Homo sapiens: one gene and its partners. The protein of the gene in region 7 purifies or fractionates together with the protein of the main gene of each other region. This does not show direct contact. Each region holds a gene or a part of one and is shown on either strand. Other genes may lie near its edges.

Region 1 (3,500 bases), on a different chromosome or scaffold from region 7:
CTCCCAAGCTCAAGCTATCCTCCTACCTCAGCCTCCCAAGTGGCTGGGACCACAGGCACGTGCCACCACACCTGGCTAATTTTTGTATTTTTTGTAGAAATGAGGTTTCACCATGTTGCCCAAGCTGGTTTTGAACTCCTAGGCTCAAGCAATCCGCCTGCCTTGGCCTCCCAAGGTACTGGAATTACAGGCATGAGCTACCATGCTTGGTCTCCTATACCCTTATTTAGAAGTTATATCTCATGAGACTACATTGTACTCCTGGTATCCTTCACCATACACTATTATTTATGTACATCTCTCACACATCCATCTCTTTCTCCCTAGGTTCCCTTAAGGGTAGATATAAACCTTTCCATGTGCTTTATTATGTGGGAAGCATTCAAATATCCAAGGGAAGGAACCTATCACAAGAATAGTGATTTACTCAATCTCGAATCCTCATAACTCAAAGTAAAACTGCTCTGATAAATGAAAATAACTTAGACTACTTTAAATAAATTATATCCTAAAATGATAATTTATGAGTTAACATTCTTTTGGTTATATCATCAGATTTATATTTAGAGTTACAGAGAAAATAGCTAAATGAAAGTTCAATTCTTTCATTTTCTCTATATCACAATTTTATATATTATATTAACATGAACATAATCCATATCTAAAATTTTTCATGAGAAAAGTACTCATAGGGCAATTAAATTTAAAAAATTGCATCTTATAATGTAAAATGATTTTTACACTCCAAGACGCTGATAATTTAAAGTCATTTCTACACCAAAATATTAACTATGCCTGTTACTTCTACCAAAAGAAGGAATCACAAGAGATAATGAATGGGACAGAGAACTCACAAGGACTAAAAATAGCAGTAGTTCTTGAAACTAGAACTACTCTTCTTTTTATGGATTGTTTTGTTTTGTTTAGAGATGAGGTCTTGCCACGTTGCCCAGGCTGGCCTCAAAATTCTGGGCTCAAGGCTTTAAGAAAAATTTAGACATTTTTAAAAAACTGCTAAATTGCTAATAGTTATAATATACTGTCACCAACAAATTTTAAGCGTCCTTTGACCATTCCTTAATTAGCAAATCAAATTTCTCCTTAGTAATAAAATGGCATACTATTATTTAAATTTTTAGTTTAATGAAATTACTGTTAAGTTTAAACAATTTCCTTAAAATTATTACTAGCTGTTTTTTGTTTCCTCATCATATTAAACAGCTTAGTTTTCTTACTTTTTAAAATAATTTGGGTGATGTTTTAATCTAACTTGGACATTAATCATTTCTCATGTTTATATTTTCCAAGTCTGTTTGCACTCCTTTCAAATTTTAAGTTTTTATTTAGCCAAATCTGCTCATAATTTCCTTTGTAATTTATTCTATAACTTTTAAGCCTGGGAAAAAAATCTCCTTGCAGAACATTTTGTTTTTCTGTAATTTCATTTTTTTTTTACTACATTCATTCCAGGTGTCATATGAGGAGGCTCTAAACTGATTTTTGTTGTTATTTCATTGTTCAACCAATTCCCCTCTTTTTTTTTTTGAGACAGAGTCTCGCTCTGTTGCCCAGGCTGGAGTGCAGTGGCTCAATCTCATCTCACTGCAAGCTCCGACTCCCGGGTTCACGCCATCGTCCCGCCTCAGCCTCCCGAGTAGCTGGGACTACAGGCACCCACCACACCTGGCTAATTTTTTTTTGTATTTTTTTAGTAGAGACGGGGTTTCACCGTGTTAGCCAGGATGGTCTTGATCTCCTGACCTCGTGATCTGCCCGCCTCGGCCTCCCAAAGTGCTGGGATTACAGGCATGAGCCACTGTGCCTAGCCCAATTCCCCTCTTATTTCTAATATCCTCTTTATTAAATATTACATTCTTCCTTACAGTCTGTTCACAGGCTAATCTGGTATAATAATTAGCTTTGTGTATTACCACATATTTTTAACTATTATAGCTTTTTAATGATTGATTATCTATAAAAGCCAGTACCTACTCATTTACTCTTCTTCAGAATTTCCTTTGGGATCTGGATTGGAAAGAACTTACATATTTGTAATATTTAATTCCTGCCCATGAAAATCACTATGACTCCATACAGTCAAATCTCAATGACAAGTGTTTCTTTTTAAGAATACTGTTATTTCTGAATATTTGATATCTTTTGGATTGCCAATATGAATAGAATGCCTTTTTTCTTATGTTTTCTAAGTAGTGATTACATATAAATATCAAAAACCAAAAGCATTCCTCTGTATCTTTGAACAAGTCTTTTCATTTGAATCTTAAGAACTTTTTAATATTACAATTGATGTGTTGGCTTTTTCTAGGAAATCATTTTTTAATGAACCTAATTTTCTGACTCTAAGTACAAACCTGTATCCATCTCCGTATTTCTCACTGTTTTTTTCTCTTCTGCGCCTTTGTTTCTCTCGCCGAGCCTCAATTCGCCGCTTTTCTTCCTCTTCATTTTTAGGATCAGTTTTTGCTAGGATATTACACAAAAAAGTAAAAGCTAAAATTCATTTTTCCATTCTCTCTTTCCAATCATCAGTTCGTAAAGTACATACTTATGAGGTATACTTAGTGATTGTAATCTAAAATTGAACTCACCAAAAAAATCGGAGTTTGAGACTATCCAGTATTTCTGAAACTTCACTAAATGAACTTCATTCATTTGAATACCATCATCATGAATTCTGTCATATCTGCTTGTCATCTATGTGATTATTTGCTACATATTTTTCTTTAAATGTGCTCATTTGTCCTATCCTTATTCTAAGCAATAATATCCTTATCACCTAAAATCATCTTGGGCATCACATACTTTGGGAAAAACACTAAAGTAACCTGACCGAGCATGAAAATGGAAGTCCAGTAAACACTGCAGAGCCCTGGATGCAAGAACTCATGTTCATATTGTAGGAGCTCTCAGAAAGTTTCTTAAAATTTGTAACCTCCAAAATAAAAGCAAATTTGTTCTCTTTTTTAAAAAATATTCTCTATTGTGATAAAATACACAAAACATAAGATTTACTAGTTTAACCATTTTAAAATGTGCAATTCAATGGCATTAAGTACATTCACAAAGTTACGCAACCATCTCCACTATCTAGTTACAGAACTGTTCATCATCCCATAAAGCAGTCACTCCCCATTTCAACCCTACCCTAAGGCCCTGGTAACCACTAATCTGCTTTCTGATCTACGGATTTGCCTATTCTAAGTATTTCATATACCTAGAATCATCCTGTCTGTTGCCTTTTTGGTCTGACTTTTATTTAGCATGTTTTCACAGTTCACCCATGTTGTACCATGTATTAGTAAGTACTTCCTTTTTTATGGTTTAATAATATTCCATTGTATGAATAACCCACATTTTTTAAACCATTCTTCTGTTGATGTATATTTCAATTGTTTCTACCTTTTGGCAATTATGAATAATGCTACTATAAACATTCATATATAAATTTTTGTTTGGACCAGGCACAGTGGCTCATGCCT
Region 2 (3,500 bases), on a different chromosome or scaffold from region 7:
GCCCGCCATCCATGCCATGCTGGACGTACCTCCCCAGGCACAGAGCTCCAGGAGAGGACTCCCGGGATGACCCCCACAGTACAGAAGGGAGGGGCTCAGAACCTGAGGGCGACTTCCAACAATGTCCTGGGGCCCTGCTGGGGGGTCTGGGTCCTAGGGAGTAGGCTTCAACACAGGCAAGGATAAGACAGACAGAAGCAACAGGACCACTCGGCCCCTGTGGGGAGTGTGTGCTGGTATAGTCACCAGTGCATGGCAGGGCCCTTTCTCCAAGTCCTCCTAGAGGACTCCTCGGACATGGGCATGGCCAGGTGCCTCCACGCATGTTCACGCGCCATGATTTATCATTAGTGAAGACCTCAGATGACCAATCGCCGCCACAGTTAGCAACAAGCCCGAACCTCAAAACCTCAAAACACGCCACTCAGCCAACAAAGCAAGCTGCAGAAGGATCCGTTGAATAAGATGATATTTACATAAAAACCTAAGTAGGAGGCCGGGCATGGTGGCTCACGCCTGTAATCCCAGCACTTTAGGAGGCTGAGGCAGGCGGAGCGCTTGAGTCCAGGAGTTTCAGACAAGCCTGGGCAACATGGCGAAACCCCGTCTCTACTAAAAATACAAAAAAATTAGCCGGGCGTGGAGGCACGTGCCCGTAGTCCCAGCTACTTTAGGGGGCTGAGGCAGAAGGATGGCTTGGGCCCAGGAGATTGAGGTTGCAGTGAGCCCAGATCATGCCTCCGCACTCCAGCCTGGGTGACAGCGTGAGACATTGTCTCTCAAAAAAACAAAACAAAACAAAAAACCTAAGTAAGCAAAACAGCAGCTTGAATGGTCAGGAACATACTCCTGCTGAAAAGAACCAAAGACATGCCTGGGAATGACAGCCACACGTTCAGGGGTCGGGGAGCGTTGGGGCTGGCTGCATGGGGAGTCCGCGGCACCTGCAAGGCTGGCGACAGGCAGGGTGGGGTAGGTGTTCTGTGCATCTGAAACACTCATTAACCAGCCAGGCCACAGAGGCCTTCCAGGACTTCCTTTCTTCCTTCCTGTACCCAGAGCTGGCCTCCTGCTTCTGTGCAGGCTGTGCCTACCTGTCCACGTACACTGGCTGGCCAGCTCTGGTTTCTCGCCCCCACCTTGGAAGGGCCTTTGTCCAGATGCCCCTGAGCTCCAGGTGCTCAGATGGTGCAGCTGCCATTCACTGAGTGCCCACTGCATGGGGCACCGCTCAACACTGTGCACCAGGGAGGACAGGAGGTCCTAGACCCGGGCAGGGTCACGGGCCAGCAGCCAGCCGGACCAGGTGGGGCCTCCCCGCCCCCGCCTGCCCTGGCACTCACAGGGTGGTCTGCTTTTCCGGTTGAAGTGGTGGTGAGGAGTAAGCCCCGGCTGGGAACACACTGTCTCAACCTGCTGCTGGACCCATCCCCCTCTGTGTCCACATTATCTCAAACACAGCCAGTGGCCCTCTGTGCCGTGGGGAGACCTACCTGAGACAACACAGAACCCAGCCTGGCTCATGATGGCAGCGCTAACAATCGCCTTCCATAGCAGGAACTCAGGAGGCGGCTCCTGGGACTGGCCTGTGTGCCAGTCCTCCTAGGAGGCAGTGTGGGCGGGGTGGGGTCGGGTGTGCCCTGGCCTCTGTGTGAACCTGCTCTGCACCTCCCTCAGGCCCTACCTGCTTCAGCACCACATCCGGGTCATAGTTCATGACCGTGAAGTGCTTCTCGTAGTCATCCAGGTCGTTGAGTGCAAAGGCCCTGGAAGACAAGTGTGCAGACACATATGGGTTCTTGAGCGGCCTTGTCCCTGCGAGGGAGGTGCCACCCACTCAGCCTTCCCAACTAGGGGTTCAGGGCTCAGGGCAGGACCACCTGCTGCTCAGGCGGGAGCCTGTTCCCTTGTCTGTGTGGCTGGGGGAGCCCCACAGCCCCACTGAGCTGGGGTGGAGGTGAGTGAGGTGCTAGCTGTGAAGCCTCTGCAGGTCCATAAAAATGGCACCTGGTTCTCATGTTGGTGCCCATTTTACAAAGAATGTTCACATCCATTACTGTGGGCAACACCAGAACTCTGAGGTGGGCAGGGCAAGTCACCGCCAATTAACACCAAGGGAGATGGGCTCCAAGGGCCGCTAGCTGGGTGAGTGATGGAGGGTGCCTTCCAACAACATTTTCTGATTCCAAAAAGGGCCCATCACCCACCCGCTACCTCCACCCGGTCACCCAGCTCCCCGACCCTGGACCCAGCCGGCCCTCCACTTACCGGTTGGAGAACCGCAGCCAGAACACATCATACACGAACAACCGTAGGGGCCTCACTGACCGCAGCAGCACGATGTAGCGGATGTCGAACTTGACCTTTCCCACGTCTTCTCGAAGGAACAACACGGGACTTTCGATGTACTTGGACACAACCTGGAGGACACAGGTGCAAGCTCGCTGGTGGCCAGGACAGAGCCCCCTGGGGCTCCCGAGCACACAAAGCCACGCAGGGGGCACAGACATGGCTGCACTTTACTCCTCCTTCTGCCTTTTCAAACCTGCCTAAGTTGCTGCAAAGTCTTTTTTTTTTTTTTGAGACAGAGTTTTGTTCTGTTGCCCAAGCTGGAGTGCGGTGGCACAATGTTGGCTCACTGCAACCTCTGCCTCCCGGGTTCAAGCGATTCTCCTGCCTCAGCCTCCTGAGTAGCTGGGATTACAGGTGCCCGCCACCACCCCCAGCTAATTTCTGTATTTTTAGTAGAGAAGGGGTTTCTCCATGTTGGCCAGGCTGGTTTCGAACTCTTGACCTCAGGTGATCCGCCCACCTTGGCCTCCCAAAGTGCTGGGATTACAGGTGTGAGCCACCGCACCCTGAAGCAAAGTCTTTATATCCATTTTTAATTGAAATGAAATATAAATTCTCACCCATAATTCCATCCACCCCCATCCCATGGCCTGAAGTCTCCACGACAATCGTCCTCATGATGCATTTCCCGCCAGCCTCTGACTATGTACACAGTCCAGGCAGATCCTGTGTCCTGCAATCCCAATACTGCTTCTGGATGTCCCCTCACTATGAATCTTTACCACGGCTCTGAGAGGCTCCTTGTCCAGGCTCAGCCACCTCACCCTGCTGGGCAGCCATACCTGGCACACTATGTGGTAGGAACTTTGCGATTAGACGCACCCAGGACAGTTCTTTTTTTAAAGACTGGGTCTTGCTCTGTCGCCCAGGGCGGAGTGCAGTGACGCGATCACAGCTCACTGCAGCCTCAACCTCCCGGGCTCAAGTGATCCTCCTGCCTTAGCCTCCTGAGAAGCTGGGACTACAGGTGTGTGCCAACATGCCCAGATAATTTTTAAAGTTTTTTCCCTTGTAGAAACGAGGTCTCCCTATGTTGCTCAGGTTGGTTCCAAACTTCTGGGCTCAAGTGATCCTCCTCCACTTCCCAGAGTGCTGAGATTACAGGTGTAAGCCACCCTGCCCAGCCTGGACCTGTCCATAAGGACCAT
Region 3 (3,500 bases), on a different chromosome or scaffold from region 7:
ATCCAGATGTAAAGTCAGATTCCAGAAGGAACGAAGAACAACAAATACAGTGACTATAAGGGTGAAAATCTAAATATCTGACTGCACAAAACAATGGGTTGTGTGATTTAAAACAGAAATAATTAAAACAAATGACAACAATAAATGGAGTTAAAGTGTGTTAGGATCCTTGCACTGTCCAGGAAGAAGGTAAAGTACACATTATCATTAGTCTTTGGTACAACATGAATGCCTGCTTTAAATTCTAGGGTGACCACTTAAAACTGAGAAAAGAGCATATAACTTTCAAGCTAATAGAAGAGGAAAAATAGGATAATAAAAATTAACCTAAAAGAAGACTAGAGAGAAAAATGAACAGAGAATAGGCAATTTGAATATATAGAGTAAGATAGCAGATTAAACCCAAATGTATCATATTTCATTAAATGTAAATGGACTAAATGCTAAATAAAAAAACAAAACCCAAGGGCACCTAGGATCTCTGTATTATTTCCTGCAACGGCATGTGAATTTATAATTATGTCAAAATAAAAAGTTTAATTTGAAAAGTAAAGAGGCCAGGTGCAGTAGCTCATACCTGTAGTCCCAGCACCTTGGGAGGCCATCATGGGAGGTTTGCTTGAGCCAAGGAGTTCAAGACCAGCCTGGGCAACACAGCAAGACTCCATCTCTATAAAAAAAAATAATAATAAGTATATAAAGATCAGAGATCTAAACTTAAGAGCTCAAACCTGGCCGGTTGCAGTGGCTCACACCTGTAATCTGAAACACTTTGGGAGGCTGAGGCAGGTGGATCACCAGAGCGCAGAAGTTCAAGACTAGCCCAGGCAACACGGTGAAAACCTGTCTCTACAAAAAAATACAAAAATTAGCTGGGCCTGACTGCGCATGCCTGTAGTCCCAGCTACTTGTGGGGCTGAGGCAGGAGGATCACTTGAGCTGGAGAGGTCAAGGCTGCAGTGAGCCGTGTTCACGCCACTGCACTCCGGCCTAGGCAATAAAATGAGACCCTGCCTCAAAAAACAATAAACAAACCAACAAAAAAACCCTTTAAAACTCTTAGAAGAAAATCTAGGGAAAAAATGTTCATGACACTGGATTTAGTAAAGATTTCTTGGATATAGCACCAAAAGCACAGACAAAAAAAAAAAAAAGATAAATTGTACTTCACTAAAACTAAAATTTTTGTACATCAAAGAGCATGATCAAGAGGGTGAAAAGACAACCCACAGAATAGGAGAAAATATTTGCAAATCACATATCTGATAAGGGATTAATATCTAGAATATATTAAAAAACCCTAGGCCGGGCGCGGTGGCTCATGCCTGTAGTCCCAGCACTTTGGGAGGCCAAGGCGGGCAGATCACGAGGTCAAGAGATGGAGACCGTCCTGGCTAACACGGTGAAACCCTGTCTCTACTAAAAATATTAAAAAAATTAACTGGGCATGGTGGCAGGCACCTGTAGTCCCAGCTATTCGGGAGGCTGAGGCAGGAAAATCACTTGAACCCGGGAGGCAGAGGTTCCAGCGAGCCGAGATCGCGCCACTGCACTCCAGCCTGGCGACAGGGCGAGACTTCATCTCAATAAATAAATAAATAATAACAAATGTTGGCAAGGATGTGGAGAAATTGGAATCCTTGTGCATTGCTGGTGGGAATATAAAATGGTGCAGTTGCTACAGAAAACCGTTTGGTAGTCCTCAAAAAAGTAAAAATAGAATGACCGTATGATCCAGAGATTCTACTTCCTGGGTATATACCCAAAAGAACTGAAAGTAGGATTCAAACAGATACTTGTATACCAATGTTCACTGCAGCACTATTCACAATGGCAACAGATGGAAACAACCCAAGTGTCCATTACGAATAGATGAATACACGGAATGTGGTCTAGACACACACACACACACACACACACACACACGAATATTACTCAGCAACAAAAAGGAATGCAGTACTGACATATACTACAGTATGGAGGAACGTTCAACATATGCTCAGTAAAATAAGTCAAAGAAGACAAATATTGTATGCCTCCATTTATCATTTATGTGAGATGCCTAGAATAGTCAAATTTACAGAGATGAGGTAGAATGGTGGTTACCAGGGACTGTGGGGATGGGAGTGATTGTTAAATGGGTAGAGAGTTTCAGTTGGGATGAGCAAAGAGTTCTGGAGACAGACGGTGGTGATGGCTACACAGCAATGTGAATGCACTTAATGCCACTGACCTGTACACTTAAAAATGGTTAAAATGGGCCAGGCGCAGTAGCTCACGCCTGTAATCCCAGCACTTTGGGAGGCCAAGGCAGGAGGATTGCTTGAGGCCAGGAGTTCGAGACCAGCCCGGGGCAGCATAGTGAGACCCCAGCTCTACAAAAAATTAAAAAAAAAAAAATTAGCCAGGCACAATAGCACATGCCTTGTAATCCCAGCTACTCAGGACACTAAGCAGGAGGATCACTGGACTCCAGGAGTTCGAGGCTGCAATGAGCTAGGATTGCACCACTGCACTCCAGCCTCCGTGACAAAGTGAGACCCCCCCCATCTCTAAAAAAAAAAAAATTTTTTTTTAATTTTAAAAACTGGTTAAAATGGTACGCTTTGTTACTTTTTTTTTTTTTTTTTTTTTTGAGACAGAGTCTTGCTCTGTCGCCAGGGTGGAGTGCAGTGGCGTGATCTCAGCTCACTGCAACCTCTGCCTCCCTGGTTCAATTCTCCTGCCTCAGCCTCCTGAGTAGCTGGGATTACAGGAACACGCCACCATGACCAGCTAATTAGTTGTATTTTTAGTAGAGACGGGGTTTCACCATGTTGGCCAGGATGGTCTTGATCTCCTGACCTCGTGATCCACCTACCTCGGTCTCCCAAAGTGCTGGGATTATAGGCGTGAGCCACCGCGCCCAGCCTGTGTTACATACATTTTATCACAATAGAAATATTTGAGAAATTTGACCAGATGCAGTGGCTCACACCTGTAATCCCAGCACTTTGGGAGGCCGAGGCAGGCAGATCACCTGAGGTCAGGAGCTCAAGACCAAGCCTGGCCAACATGGTGAAACCTCGTCCTACTAAAAATACAAAAATTAGCCGGGTGCGGTGGCGGGCGCCTGTAGTCCCAGCTACTAGGGAGGCTGAGGCAGGAAAATCACTTGAACCCGGGAGGCAGAGGTTGTGGTGAGCCGAGATCGCGCCACTGCACTCCAGCCTGGGCAACAGAGTGAGACCCTGTCTCAAAAAAAGAAAAGAAAAGAAAAGAAGAGAAAGAAGAGAAGAGAAAAGAAAAGGAAGAAAGATTTGAGAAATTTTCTTGCATGTGCAGATGTGTACGTACAACAGTGGAAACATTTTTTTACATAGCCATGACATCTTTTAAATGCCATTGTCAGGCTGGGCGCAGTGGCTCATGCCTGTAATCCCAGCACTCTGGGAGGGCAAGGTGGGTGGACTGCTTGAGCCCAGAGTTCACGACCAGCCTAGTCAACATGGTGAAACCCT
Region 4 (3,069 bases), on a different chromosome or scaffold from region 7:
TTCTCTTGGCCCCCAAGAGAATAAGCTTTGTTAATTTTGCAGTCATATGGGAAGGAAGCTGTAACTTACAAAAATATTAAAATGAAGTACTTACCACAGTTTGGTATACTCAGTGTCCATCATTGGGGGACATTCTGTTAGTAATTTGGTTATGCCAACCGCACAGATCTTTTTCTCTACATTTCCAGATACCTTCTGAATTTCAGGAATAATAATTTTTTCCAAAACCATTCCAAACATTCTATTAAAGCAAAATAAATCAACTTAATATTAGATTATCACTATAATGAAATAGTAAAATGCTTAGATGTTAGTTACTTCTTATGAATATGATAAATTACTAAATAACAAGACTGCTGTTTTTGATCATCTGAAGAGACTGAAAGTCAAAACATAAAAAAACCCCATCACACCTCTACCCTGTAGCCAAATGCCATAATCTTTTTCTTTTCTTTTTTTTTTTGAGACGGAGTTTCGCTCTTGTTGCCCAGGCTGGAGTGGAACGGTGTGATCTCAGCTCACTACAACCTCCACCTCCTGGGTTCAAGCAATTTGCCTGCCTCAGCCCCCTGAGTAGGTGGGATTACAGGTGCCCACCACCACGCCCGGCAAATTTTTGTATTTTTAGTAGAGATGGGGTTTCATTGTGTTGGCCAGGCTGATCTCGAACTCCTGACCTCAGGTGATCCACCTGCCTCAGCCTCCCAAAGTGCTAGGATTACAGGCGTGAGCCACCATTCCTGGCCCTCTCTGCTTTTTTCTTTAAAAATTACACCTGGCCAGTCTCAAAAAAAAAAAAGAAAAAAAAAAAAAAAAGAGAGAGGAGCAAGGAGGGAAAAAAGGAATCATCCCACCACCCAGAAACAACTAGTTTTAACATTTTTGGGTTATAAGCTTCCCAACTGTCTTTGCTTACATACCTGCAGGTACATAAATGCTAATGGCTATTTAAAATAATTCGGCCAATCATTCTATGTTGTTGCAAACATGCTAGAAGTGAAGTTTTCCGTAATTCTAAATGATGCAAAATCCTCAGTTTATGCGTTAATAGAACCAATTCTTTGAAGTGGAAATATGGCTCAAAGGGTATGGCAATTCTAATGCTCTGGATAAAAAGTGCATACATTTTGCTCTCTAGAAAGATCAGGCTAATTCAGGCTCCCACTAGCAGTGCATGAGATTTCCTCAAAATCCCCTACTGCCGGAAGCCATGTTTTCTGGTCTCCTTTCCAGAGTAATTCATTTTTTAGTCAATGTAGAATTTTTGAGACATAACTGAGGTACAGGGATCTAACTGTCCCCGAAGAAATTTTCCCTAAGAGTTGTTCTTTATCTTATCGTTATAATTGTTTTATTCCCTACTAATGGGAAATGCCACCTAAATACATTCTTTGCATATATACCAGATAAGTCAAAAACAAAGTTAATTTATTGGTCCTAAGTATTTCTCATTTGAAAAATTCTGCTGTGTTTGCATTAGCAGCACATATACTAAAATTGGAACGATATGGATTAGCACGATTTTTTAAAAAAGGGGGAAGGAAAATTCTGGTTTTTTTTTTTAATTATACTTTAAGTTCTAGGGTACATGTGCACAACGTGCAGGTTTGTTACATATGTATACATGTGCCAAGTTGGTTTACTGCACCCATTAACTCGTCATTTACATTAGGTATTTCTGCTAATGCTATCCCTCCCTCTGCCCTCCCTTCCCCTGCCCCCCATCCCACGACAGGCCCCAGAGTGTGATGTTCCCCGCCCTGTGTCCAAGTGTTCTCATTGTTCAATTCCCACCTATGAGTGAGAACATGTGGTGTTTTCTGCTGTTAGTTTTAATAAGGCAGGCTCCTGGAGACAACACTGACCATTTAACATAATATAGAACACTGGCTGTGGAGAATGCCAGTGTGTAGAGTAGATGGTCCTCTAATCTAGAGGATTAGAACAATGATTCCAGGGTGTTTTTTCTTTTTTTGAGATGGAGTCTCACTATATTGCCCAGGCTGGTCTCAAACTCCTGAGCTAAATCCGCCCTCCTCAGCCTCTCAGAGTGTGGGATTACGGGCGTGAGCCACCATGCTGGGCCAGGATTACTTTTTCTTTACTCCCAATACCTAAGAATATTTTGAAAACCATAGACACTATCTCCATACCAAGAACCACATCATCATCTATAAGACAGAGATACTGATTTGTACTAAAAAAAAAGTCAAAACATTTTCTTCCTTTAAAAAATAATAAAAACAAACTTACTTTGGTTGTATACCATCAAATATTTCTTGTAGTGCTAGTGCCCCATATTTTATGCAATACAAATTAATAAAGACTAAAAAACCTGTTGAAAGAAGATGCAGAATATCAGCATAGAGAACTCACGCACTAAACTGGTAACTGATAAGTCTGCAAAATAAACCTATGCTTAATCATTAACATCCAAAGGCTGTGGCATCAATACCTGCCTTCTAGTAAATAGAAAACTTGTCTTTCTGTCATAGACCTTTACATGCTGTCTCTCTTTGATTTATATTTCCTTATAATATTCTCTCTACTGAAAAAATGTTTTGGTATCCAACCATAAACCAACCTCTGGAACACAATATGACTAACACTAACTTAATGTTTGGAGAACACAAACATCTTAAAATATTTTCTTTTTTCTTGTGAGAAGGTTTCACTCTATCACCTAGGCTGGGTGCAGGAGCGTGATCACAGCTCACGCAGCCTTAACTTCCCAGGGTCAAGTGATCCTCCCACCTCAGCCTCCTGAGTAGCTGGGGCTACAGGCACACACCACCATGCTTGGCTGTTTTGTAGAGACAGGGTCTTACCATGTTGCCCAGGCTGGTCGTTAACTCCTGGACTCAAGGAATACTCCCACTTTCACCTCCCAAAGTGCTGGGATTACAGATGAGAGCCACTGCACCAGGCCCTTACAATATTTTCTTTTTTTTTTTTGAGACAGGGTCTCACTCTGTCACCTAGGATGGAGTGCAGTGGGTGTAATCTTGGCTCACTGCAGCCTCAACCTCTGGGACTTAGGTGATGCTCCTACTTCAGCCTCCCAAGCAG
Region 5 (3,500 bases), on a different chromosome or scaffold from region 7:
CATCATCTCCTTTGGCATTGCCAATGCGGAATGGAATATTCATCTTGCTTCTATTTTGGGGCTCCACTGGACAACTGAAAAACATGTTTATTATTCCAGCTACTTTTCTGAAATGTATGGGTTGTCATAAACAAATCAACAGATTTTTTTTTCTTAACACTTCCTAGATGCAAGCAGAAGATTTTTTAAAAAACAAAAAACAAAAAATCTGCCCCAGCACATTTATTGTTTACTTAGGGAAAACAAACTCTTGCATATGGAACAGTGGGTTATCATCCCCTTGTATGACTTGTACTTAATTTCCATCAGCCTCAGTTTCCTCACCTGAATACTGGGAATAATAATATCTCCATTTCAGACTAGTTGTGACGGTTTAGTGGTACTACATATATGAAGCTTCCAACACATGGCAGCTGCACGGCAAATGTGAGTGACCTCTTTCTCTGCAAGGCTGCAGAGAAATAATAAGTTGGTCCTATAGTGGCTGTAAGGCAAAAATAATGAGCAGCAACTTCCAAAGGACTTACCATGGTGTATTGCCCCAAGCTGTGTGACCCTGAGCAAGTTACTTAACCTCTCTGCTATGCCTCACCTTCCTCATCTGAACAGTGGGAATAATAGAGGAACCTACCTCAACCACCTCAAGTTGTTGTAAGCATTAAATAAGTCAGTCTTTATAGAGAATTTTTGTGGCCCATTTAAAAATAAGAAGAGGTGGAATCTAGTTTTCCATCTTTTGAATCTGGGCTGGCCTTTTGACTGGCTTTGGCCAAGAGTTTACAACAGACTCTTTGCACCTTCCAAGCCTAGGTCTCAAAAGACCTTACAGCCTCTCCTCCCGCTCTCTTAAAATATTGCTGTCATGGCCAAGCGCGGTGGCTCACACCTATAATCCCAGCACTTTGGGAAGCCGAGGCAGGTGGATCACGAGGTCAGGAGTTTGAGATCAGCCTGATTAACATGGTGAAACCCCATCTCGACTGAAAAAAAAAAATACAAAAATTAGCTGGGCGTGCTGGCACACACCTGTAATCCCAGCTACTCAGGAGGCTGAGGCAGGAGAATTGCTTGAACTCGGGAGGTGGAGATTGCAGTGAGCCAAGATTGTGCCACAGCACTCTAGCCTGGGCAACAGAGCAAGACTCTGTCTCAAAAAAAAAAAAAAAAAATATATATATATATATATATATTGCTGTCACTTAAGCATGTTTGAGCTAGAGTGCTGGAGATAAGTGTCCCAGCCAACAGCCAGCACCAACTGCCAGATATGTGAAACCACTGTAGACCATCTGGCTCCAAATGAATAACCAGATGACGACTTCAGTAGAATGAGGCATCCCAAGACCAGCAGAAGAACCCCCTAGCTGAGCTCAGCCCAACCTGCTGACCCAAAAAACTACGAGCAAGTGAATGGTGGTTGTTTTCAGTCACTTAAGTTTTAAGGTGTTCTATGATGCAGAAACAAATAACTGACACAATTTAAAACTATGTCTGCAACATATTAAATGCTATATAAGTACCTGTTAATACATCTATCTTTTTAAAAATTTTTATTTTAAATTTTTCTGGGTACATAGTAGGTGTACATATTTATGGGAATAAATTCATCTTTTTATTCCCAGCACTTTGCATAAGGTACATATCGACTCTCAAAAATGATTATGAGTGAATTTTTGTCTAGGAAAGGTTCGTGTTTGACTTCAGTTTCTGCTTTGGAAAATAAGCAGCCAAAATTATTTTTCACTGGCAACCAAAGGAGACAAATGGAAGAATAGCTGACATTACTCTGCAATTTTTTTAAAAAAAGGTACAATGTGTAATAACCCTCTCTTTCCCTTTGCTCAAGTATATCCTCTTTTATTCTTACACTTCTACGGGTGGAATTCATTAAAATTACAGCAAATAAAGGCAGTGTGAGAGGCCCCCTGAGGGCACATCTGTAATTCTTGTTAAAGTTAATGAGAGTCTAGTACACAGCTTCAAGCAAAAGAGAGGCCAAAGGGGGAAACAAATATGGGGAAAAGACTTTGAGCCTGAATTCCAGGCCCCACTATTCGAAGTGGTAGGTTTCACGGCTGACATTGAAAATAAACATTCAACGGCTACCCTCTTTTGATATTCCACTGCCTCAGGCTCCCAATGTGAGGCTCCAATCAGAGAGGTGGAGCAACAAAAAGCACATTTAACTTAACAGAAAAAAATTGAAAGCAGGAAGAATTAAGCATCCGTATTTACAGTTCCTCTCCCTGCAATTTACCCATCCTATCATGAAAGTAGAAGATATCACAAAGCAATAATGTCATAAAAGTGAGAAATTAAAGACTAAATTGTCATGCAACAAATATTTATGCACTACCCATGGGAGAGTGTCTCTAGTATGGGGCTGGGGGGAGAAAAAAAGATTAAGGGAAATTAACTGCTTCCAATCTACAGAGAGATGGCTCCGGAGGGAATCACAATTATACGTAGGAAGTGCTGTAACAGCCAAGGGCTGCAAAGGCAGAGAAGCCAGATAAGGAATTCAGCAGCGGCAAGGTTGACAGGTTTCAGGGGAGGGGACAAGGCATGGTTCCAACAGATGAGAAGAAAGGGCATCTGGCAGACAGCTGCATCTGCAAAGGCACAAAGGCTTCCGGCAAGTCTGCTGACTTAACTGGAGCACTGGCTTCCTGGCTGGGGTGGCTGGAAGACCTACAGGGCCGGGGCTGTGGAGTGCCCTGCTGGGAACTGGACTGGATCCTTGAGCAATGAGGAGTAATCCACAACAAAATGCGGTCTGTGTTTTAGAAAAATAATTACAGCACACAGAGGAGAGACTGGGGGGTGAAGAAACTGGGAACGCACAGACCTGCTGGAAAGCTCTTATGAAGAACTTTCTACGGTTCCAGTATCTAATATGGCCACAGTAGTCTTGATGACCAAAATCATTTTTTTCCATCTTTAGGAAGCTACATGGGAACAACCAGATCACACAGCCCTGAAGCTACTGTGCATGTGAATGAACCTGTCTTCTGCTTCATTCCTGAAAGCTGCACCTCTGTTTTGGATTCTATATTGTGTTTGTGTATTTACATTTTGATTCATAGTAATGTCTCATGCTATGGGTTTGCACTGAACGCAAACTGTAAATTAAAAAAAGGAAATGGCTGGAAACAAACAAAAAAAAAGCTTTCTAGGTCAAAAGAACTAGGGCCTGTACCAAGGTGCCGGCACCGAGGAGCTTCAAGCATGGGCGGCAAACTCTAAGCCAGCATGTCCCCGCACCACTCACATAAATGAGTAGGACGGGCCGGTGTGGAAGGTGCAAACAAGCTCTCTCACATTTTAAACGTGGAGGACTAGTCTGAAAAAGAGGCTCTCCCTTTTTTTTTTCCTGAAACATATGGCTATCCCTGTCAAAGTTTCTTTTTCCCATTTTCACAGGCACATGGATTATGGAATAAGAAACCAGATCTCTAAGTATCTTCCAAGAGCCCAATATTGGCTCAAGTTGTGTTTTT
Region 6 (3,500 bases), on a different chromosome or scaffold from region 7:
GAGTGGTTGGTAAACTGACTTAAGATTACAGAGCTAGTAAGAAGATGGGCTGGCATTCAAACTGGTTTGTTCAGCTGATAACTTAGAATATAATATAAATGACTTAAGCGTCCAATTAGTTGACTGAAGAAGTAAAAAAATAACTATTAATATATAACTTCAAAGGGTGAGCAACATTGTGCTTTCTGCTAATATGATATAAATTTAAAAACTTTTGCTTTAGAATGGTATGCTAGGACTTATGTACTAGAGCATAGTATCAAGAGTACTATAAATATAAGCGATTTCTTCGTCTAATAATTATAAATTTGAATTATAAGACTATCAACAGAAAACAAACACCAAAAAATACCCATACCTACTTAATGTTGGCTTCAGATTAAAATAAAAATATCCTAAGCCAAGTTTCAGCAAAATAATTTTATTTCCTAACATATGGTAACATATACATCCAATATGTGCTCCCCTTGCACATCTATTCACAAGTGACTTCCAAATGACAACTGCTTTGATATTTAAGCATGTGCTAAAAGTTATCTTAGTTGAGATATGAAAAATGCTTTAGATGGATAACATTCTGAGTATATTGGATTAGTCACAGCAGAATTTACTTTAGTTAGATGAGTTCTACAAATTTAAAGCTTTGAAAAGCTACTACTTTTACTTCTAATACATCCAGATGAACACGATGTAGCAATATCAGCTTGTATTCCAGAGAAATCTCATTAGTTTTTCTGGTGATGGAACCACTTATCCACTGTATTCAGAGAAAAGAAAAACAAATTAGAATTCCTGTTGAGAATCAAAAATACACCTAACATATAACAAAGACTAATATACTTGCTTTAATGAATCCTACTATGAATTACCTGAAAATTAACAGGCATACATACAAAATTTCTCTACAGCAAATGCAGGTGTTTTCTTTTGGGCTTCCTTACACTTCATGCTAATTGCATAGTGTGATTTTCAAACTTTTTTTTTTAATTTCGAGACAGGGTCTCACTCTCTTGCCCAGATTGCAGTGCAGTGGCAGCAATCATGGCTCACTGCAACCTCCATCTTCCAGGTTCAAGCAATTCTCGTGCCTCAGTCTCCCCAGCAGCTGGTATTACAGACGTGTGCCACCACATCTAGCAAATTTTTGTATTTTTTTTTTGTAGAGACATGGTTTCTCCATGTTGGCCAGGCTGGTCTCGAACTCCTGGGCTCAAGTGATCCGCCCGCCTCAGCCTCCCAAAGTGCTGGGATGACAGGTGTGAGCCACCACACCCAGCCTTCAAACTTGTTTTTTTAAGTGGCAGAATCATTTTCTTACCAGAAAAATCTTACAGAGAATTCTGACATCTAAGGAGGAGAGAACTGTTTTCTGGGTGAAGCAGCCTGTGGCCAGGTGGGAATGTGGAGATCAGCCCACTCAGGGTCCCCTCCAGTGTCCAGCGGGCACCTCCATGGAACTCAGAGGGGCACAATGGGTCATGGTTTGGAAACCACTGTGATACAGTGTGGCACTAAAGGTGGTATGTAGCAGCTCATCTTCCTTCCCACGTACACTACAGAATTCTAAAAATGCTTCTCTTCTCACCCTTCTTCCCTCTCTTCCTGTGTATGTTAAAAATATGTACGTGGCTGCGTGCAGTGGCTCACGCCTGTAATCCTAGCACTTTGGGAGGACAAGGTAGGTGGATCGCCAGCCTGGGTGACATGGCGAAACCCGGCCTGATTAGTGTTCAAGACCAGCCTGGTTCGAGACCTGGTTTGAGACCAGCTTGGGCAACATGGTGAAACTCTATCTCTACAAATTATAAAAAAATTAGACAGGTATGGTGGCACATGTCTGCAGTCCCAGCTATTTGGGAGGCTGAGATGGGAGAATCACTTTAACTTGGGGGGGTTACGGGTACAATGAGCTGTGATTGTGCCCCTGCACTCCAGCCTGGGTGACAGAGTGACAGCCTGGGTGACTCTGTGTCAAAAAACAAAAAACAAGCCAGGTACAGAAAGACAAATACCACATGATCTCATTTATATGTGCAATATAAAAAAGGTAAATTCATAGAGGTAGAGAGTAGAATGGTGGTTGCCAGGAGCTGAAGGATGGGGAAAGGGCAGGCGATGGTCAAAGGGTACCAAGTTTTAGTTAGACAAAAGGAATAAGCTTTAGTGATCTATTGCACAGGATGGTGACTGTAACATCTATTTCAAAATTGCTAAGAGTAGATTTCAAATGTTTTTACCACACAACAAATAATGATTAAGTATGTGAGGTAATGATTTCGTAATTAGCCAGATTTAATCATTCCACATTGTAAACATATATCAAAACATCACACTGTACCCATAAATATATTTAATTATCATTTGTCAACTAAAAATAAAAGTAACATAATTTTTCCATAACTGTGTAATGTTTAATGAAATTTTACTGGAATAGAAATCTTACCGTCTGTTGGTACTGTGCAGGCAGATTCACAGGGTGGTGGTAACTAAAATATAAAATATTAAAATCTATTAGTCTAATCTCATTTTTTAAAAAGCTAAAAAGGTATACTGACAAAAATTTAAGAGAATCTGAAGACTATCCCAAATTTTAGGATCTAAACGTAATTTATAATATATAGGAACAATAGAAGGTTTGCTCTACTGCTGAGATGCTAACAAATTCAAGCCTCTTGGACAGTGCAGTGGCTCATGCCCATAATCCCAACACTTCGGGAGGCTGAAGTGGGTGGATCACAAGGTCAGGAGTTCAAGACCAGCCTGGCCAAGATGGTGAAACCCCGTCTCTACTAAAAATAAAAGCTGGGCATGGTGGCGGGCACCTGTAATCCCAGCTGCTCGGGAGGCTGAGGCAGAGAACCGCTTGAACCTGGGAGGCGGAGGTTGCAGTAAGCTGAGATTGCGCCACTGCACTCCAGTCTGGGCAACAGAGCGAGACTTGTCTCAAAAAAAAAAAAAAAAATTCAAGCCTCTTGACTTTTTATGACATGCAGAATAATAAGAATGTTTTTTGAAATAATAAAAACTGATTTATGCATATATAACAATTTTATATATACACACATATTTATAAAATATGGGCAGTGTTCTCACTGAAAAATTATAATAGTTAACCACTGGCTTTTCCCTTATAATTTTTCTTATTTATCTCAACTTTGTCGGGATTCATACATAAATAAAGATAAAACTAAATGTACTGGTTTCATCATTAAATTGTCCTTTTTTCCTTGTTCTACCCCATTTACAAGGCAGTAAAAAAGTCAGACCTCATTTTCTTTTGTTTTCCTTATTTAATATTATAAATGAAAATAATTTAAGATGATCTCGTTCAATTTTTTGGTTAATCCAAACCAAATAATTAAAAATAGTACAAAAACAAAATTATTGCTTTGACGGGTGCTTTTACTACCTCACATGAAAGCCTTTCTTAGATTATGAATCATTCCTGCAATGGTACCTAAAACTTGATACCTTCCTCAGTCCTTGCTAGAACCAAGTCA
Region 7 (3,500 bases):
CTCCGCCTCCCGGGTTCATGCCAATCTCCTGCCTCAGCCTCCTGAGTAGCTGGGACTACAGGCGCCCGACACCACGCCCGGCTAATTTTTTTGTTTTTTTTTCAGTAGAGACGGGGTTTCACTGTGTTAGCCAGGATGGTCTCAATCTCCTGACCTCGTGATCTGCCCGCCTTGGCCTCCCAAAGTGCTGGGATTACAAGCGTGAGCCACCGTGCCCAGCCTTGTTCTTTTTTTTTTTTTTTTTTTTTTTTTGAGACAGTGTTTCACTCTTGGCACCCAGGCTCCCAGGCTGGAGTGCAGTGGCACAATCTGAGCTCACTGCAACCTCTGCCTCCCAGGTTCAAGCGATTCTCCTGTCTCAGCCTCCTGAGTAGCTGGGATTACAGGTGTGCTCCAATATGCCTGGCTACATTTTTTTGTATTTTTAGTAGGGACGGGGTTTTGCCATGTTGGCCGGGCTGGTCTCAAGCTCCTAACCTCAGGTGATCCACCTGCTTCGGTCTCCCAAAGTGCTGGGATTACAGGTGTGAGCCACTGCGCCCAGGCTTTTTTTTTTTTTTTTTTTTTTTGTGACAGTCTTGCTCTGTCGCCCAGGCTGGAGTGCAGTGGCACCATCACAGCTCACTGCAGCATTAAACTCCTGGGCTCAAATGATCCTCCCACCCCAGCCTCCCAACTAGCTGGGACTACAGTTGCAAACCACCATACCTGGCTAATTTTTGTTTTTTTGATTTTGTTTGTTCATTTGTTTTGTAGCGATGGGGTTTTACCATATGGCTCAGACTGGTCTCAAACTTCTGGGCTCAAGCAGTCCTCCCTCCTCGGCCTCCCGAAGCGCTGGGATTACAAGTGTGAGCCATTACACCCAGCCCAACCCTAGCTGCAATAGGCAGAGAATAGGTCCCTGACATCTTTGTTCTCCCAACCTCAGTTTTACCCGTCTGTACAATGGGTTGTCCATGAGCCTCCACCTGGCCCCCTTAGCTTGCTCCATCTGCATGCTGGGGTTCAACATAGGTCCTCCACGGCTGGGCATGGTGGCTCACACCTGTCATCCCAGCACTTGGGGAGGCCGAGAGCCGAGGCGGGCGGATCAGAGGTCAGGAGATCGAGACCATCCTGGCCAACATGGTGAAACCCCATCTTTCCTAAAAATACAAAAATTAGCTGGGCGTGGTGGTGGGCATCTGTAATCCTAGCTACTCGGGAGGCTGAGGCAGGAGAATCGCTTGAACCCGGGAGGTGGAGGTTGCAGTGGGCCGAGATTGCGCCACTGCACTCCAGCCTTAGCGTTAAGAGCAAGACTCCGTCTCAAAAAAAAAAAAAAAAAAAATGATCCTCCACAAACTTCCGCCTTGATTTGTGCCTCTCACATAGTCCAAGTCTGTTTGCTCATCTGGGCGATGGGTTCTTGCAGGTCCCTGATAAACTTCTCCTGGGTCCCCCGGGCCTTTTGCGTGCCTCCGGCGGCGTGCACGGGTCCGCAGCGACCCCCTGCCCACCTCTGCCCAGCCCCTCCCACTCTGCGGGTCTGTTCAGGGCCCCTCCGACCTCAGCCTTCGGGGCCGGGCAGTGGGTCCGCCCTCTGCGTCCCTGGCGCTCCTGACCTCTCGCCTCTCCGGCCTGCAGGATGAGTTCCACCCGTTCATCGAGGCCCTGCTGCCTCACGTCCGCGCCTTCGCCTACACCTGGTTCAACCTGCAGGCGCGGAAGCGCAAGTACTTCAAGAAGCACGAGAAGCGGATGTCGAAGGACGAGGAGCGTGCGGTCAAGGACGAGCTGCTGGGCGAGAAGCCCGAGGTCAAGCAGAAGTGGGCGTCGCGGCTGCTGGCCAAGCTGCGCAAGGACATCCGGCCCGAGTGCCGCGAGGACTTCGTGCTGAGCATCACCGGCAAGAAGGCGCCGGGCTGCGTGCTCTCCAACCCCGACCAGAAGGGCAAGATGCGGCGCATCGACTGTCTCCGGCAGGCGGACAAGGTGTGGCGGCTGGACCTGGTCATGGTCATCCTGTTCAAGGGCATCCCGCTGGAGAGCACCGACGGCGAGCGCCTGGTCAAGGCTGCGCAGTGCGGTCACCCGGTCCTGTGCGTGCAGCCGCACCACATTGGCGTGGCCGTCAAGGAGCTGGACCTCTACCTGGCCTACTTCGTGCGTGAGCGAGGTGAGGTGTGGTGGCCTGAGCGGAGCGGCCAGCGGGGAGGGTGTCTGATGGTGGTGACACGGGGCCAGGAGGGCCTGAGGGAGGAGGCCAGTGCGTGTGGGTATGATGTGGTGGTCTGAGAGGGGAAGTGGGCCTTGGAGAGTGCCCAATGGGGGCGACACGGGGCACGGAGCATCTGAGGGAGGAGGCTGGTGGGTATAGATGTGATGTGGTGGTCTGAGAGGGGAGGCGAGTCTAGGAGAATATGTAAAGTAGGTGATATGGCACAAGGAGAGTCTGAGAGAGGAGGCCAGTGCATATAGATGTGATGTGGTGGTCCAGGCAGGGCAGCAGGCCTGGGAGAGCATCTGATGGGGGTGACATGGTGCAAGGAGGGTCTGAGGGAGGAGGCTGGTGCGTGTAGATGTGATGTGGTGGTCCAAGCGGGGAGGCGGGCCTGGGAGAGCGTCTGACGCCGGGTGACACGGGGCAAGGAGGGTCTGAGGGAAGAAGCCAGCATGTGTAGATGTGATGTGGTGGTCTGAGGGGGGAGGCAGGCCTAGGAGAGCGTCTAATGCAAGTGATATGGTGCAAGGAGCGTCTGAGGGAGGAGGCCAGTGCATGCAGGGCCCAGGGTGGCTGCTGATGGGATGTGGAGGTCAGATGGAGGAGGCAGGCCTAGCAGAGGTCTCAAGTGAGAGATGGTACAAGGAGGTTTTTTTGACAGAGGAGGCAGGTGGGCTGTGGCGCTCCAATGGTAGAGGCAGGATCTCACCCTCACGTCTGAGGGAGGAGGCAGGAAGGCCCTTGAGGTCTCAGGGGGATGAGAATGTCCTAGATGGTCTTGGGCACAACGGACGGCCTTGCTGGGAGCAGGGGTGAGGAGAGGAGAGGGACAGGCCATCCCAGCCCTCCGAGGAGAGCCAAGAGAGTCCTGGCACCGCTTTCTGTGAATGCTTGTTGGTTGATTGACTCTCAGACCATGCCAGCAGAGGCCTGATGAGCCTGGCCCTGCCAGAGGGGTGTTTGCCGGTGGTCAAATGCCTGATGTTGAGACCAGCTAGCTCTGTGGGGTTGAGGAAATCCAAGGCGGCTTCCCAGAGGAGGAGGTGCAGCTGAGCTCAGCTCTGCAGGATGGCCAGGCCACAGTGAACAAGGAGATGCCCCAGGGGTCCTGGCAGGAGCGTGGAGATGAGAGGCCTGATGCCTGTGCCTCTGGTCCCGGTGCTAAGAGCAGGGTTGGTCCTGCAGCTTCTTGGCTGCGTGGCCCTCTTGGACTTCAGTTTCTCTTGCCTGCCAAATGGTGGAGATGATCAGTCTGTAGCTGGATGGGGCTATGGGAGGTTCCAGAAGATCATGC

What was found.
Region 1: the proteins of NFIC (region 7) and ZNF326 purify together in Homo sapiens (affinity purification with mass spectrometry, with the first as the bait; one large-scale study listed by BioGRID). This does not show direct contact.
Region 2: the proteins of NFIC (region 7) and TTLL12 purify together in Homo sapiens (affinity purification with mass spectrometry, with the first as the bait; one large-scale study listed by BioGRID). This does not show direct contact.
Region 3: the proteins of NFIC (region 7) and LMAN2 purify together in Homo sapiens (affinity purification with mass spectrometry, with the first as the bait; one large-scale study listed by BioGRID). This does not show direct contact.
Region 4: the proteins of NFIC (region 7) and CSE1L fractionate together in Homo sapiens (co-fractionation; one large-scale study listed by BioGRID). This does not show direct contact.
Region 5: the proteins of NFIC (region 7) and PSAT1 purify together in Homo sapiens (affinity purification with mass spectrometry, with the first as the bait; one large-scale study listed by BioGRID). This does not show direct contact.
Region 6: the proteins of NFIC (region 7) and PPA1 purify together in Homo sapiens (affinity purification with mass spectrometry, with the first as the bait; one large-scale study listed by BioGRID). This does not show direct contact.

What each region holds. Positions count from the first base shown.
Region 1 is NC_000001.11:90,012,110-90,015,609, reverse strand, and holds part of ZNF326 (DBIRD complex subunit ZNF326), read right to left. Parts: intron 2,485-3,500; coding exon 2,373-2,484; intron 1-2,372. UniProt on the Homo sapiens protein: Core component of the DBIRD complex, a multiprotein complex that acts at the interface between core mRNP particles and RNA polymerase II (RNAPII) and integrates transcript elongation with the regulation of alternative splicing: the DBIRD complex affects local transcript elongation rates and alternative splicing of a large set of exons embedded in (A + T)-rich DNA regions.
Region 2 is NC_000022.11:43,170,135-43,173,634, forward strand, and holds part of TTLL12 (tubulin--tyrosine ligase-like protein 12), read right to left. Parts: intron 2,421-3,500; coding exon 2,269-2,420; intron 1,767-2,268; coding exon 1,685-1,766; intron 1-1,684. UniProt on the Homo sapiens protein: Negatively regulates post-translational modifications of tubulin, including detyrosination of the C-terminus and polyglutamylation of glutamate residues. Also, indirectly promotes histone H4 trimethylation at 'Lys-20' (H4K20me3).
Region 3 is NC_000005.10:177,341,669-177,345,168, forward strand, and holds part of LMAN2 (vesicular integral-membrane protein VIP36 precursor), read right to left. Parts: intron 1-3,500. UniProt on the Homo sapiens protein: Plays a role as an intracellular lectin in the early secretory pathway. Interacts with N-acetyl-D-galactosamine and high-mannose type glycans and may also bind to O-linked glycans.
Region 4 is NC_000020.11:49,091,312-49,094,380, reverse strand, and holds part of CSE1L (exportin-2), read right to left. Parts: intron 2,336-3,069; coding exon 2,254-2,335; intron 242-2,253; coding exon 95-241; intron 1-94. UniProt on the Homo sapiens protein: Export receptor for importin-alpha. Mediates importin-alpha re-export from the nucleus to the cytoplasm after import substrates (cargos) have been released into the nucleoplasm.
Region 5 is NC_000009.12:78,324,625-78,328,124, reverse strand, and holds part of PSAT1 (phosphoserine aminotransferase), read right to left. Parts: intron 75-3,500; coding exon 1-74. UniProt on the Homo sapiens protein: Involved in L-serine biosynthesis via the phosphorylated pathway, a three-step pathway converting the glycolytic intermediate 3-phospho-D-glycerate into L-serine.
Region 6 is NC_000010.11:70,202,430-70,205,929, forward strand, and holds the end of PPA1 (inorganic pyrophosphatase), read right to left. Parts: intron 2,487-3,500; coding exon 2,444-2,486; intron 758-2,443; coding exon 726-757; 3' UTR 406-725; downstream 1-405.
Region 7 is NC_000019.10:3,380,083-3,383,582, forward strand, and holds part of NFIC (nuclear factor 1 C-type), read left to right. Parts: intron 1-1,629; coding exon 1,630-2,161; intron 2,162-3,500.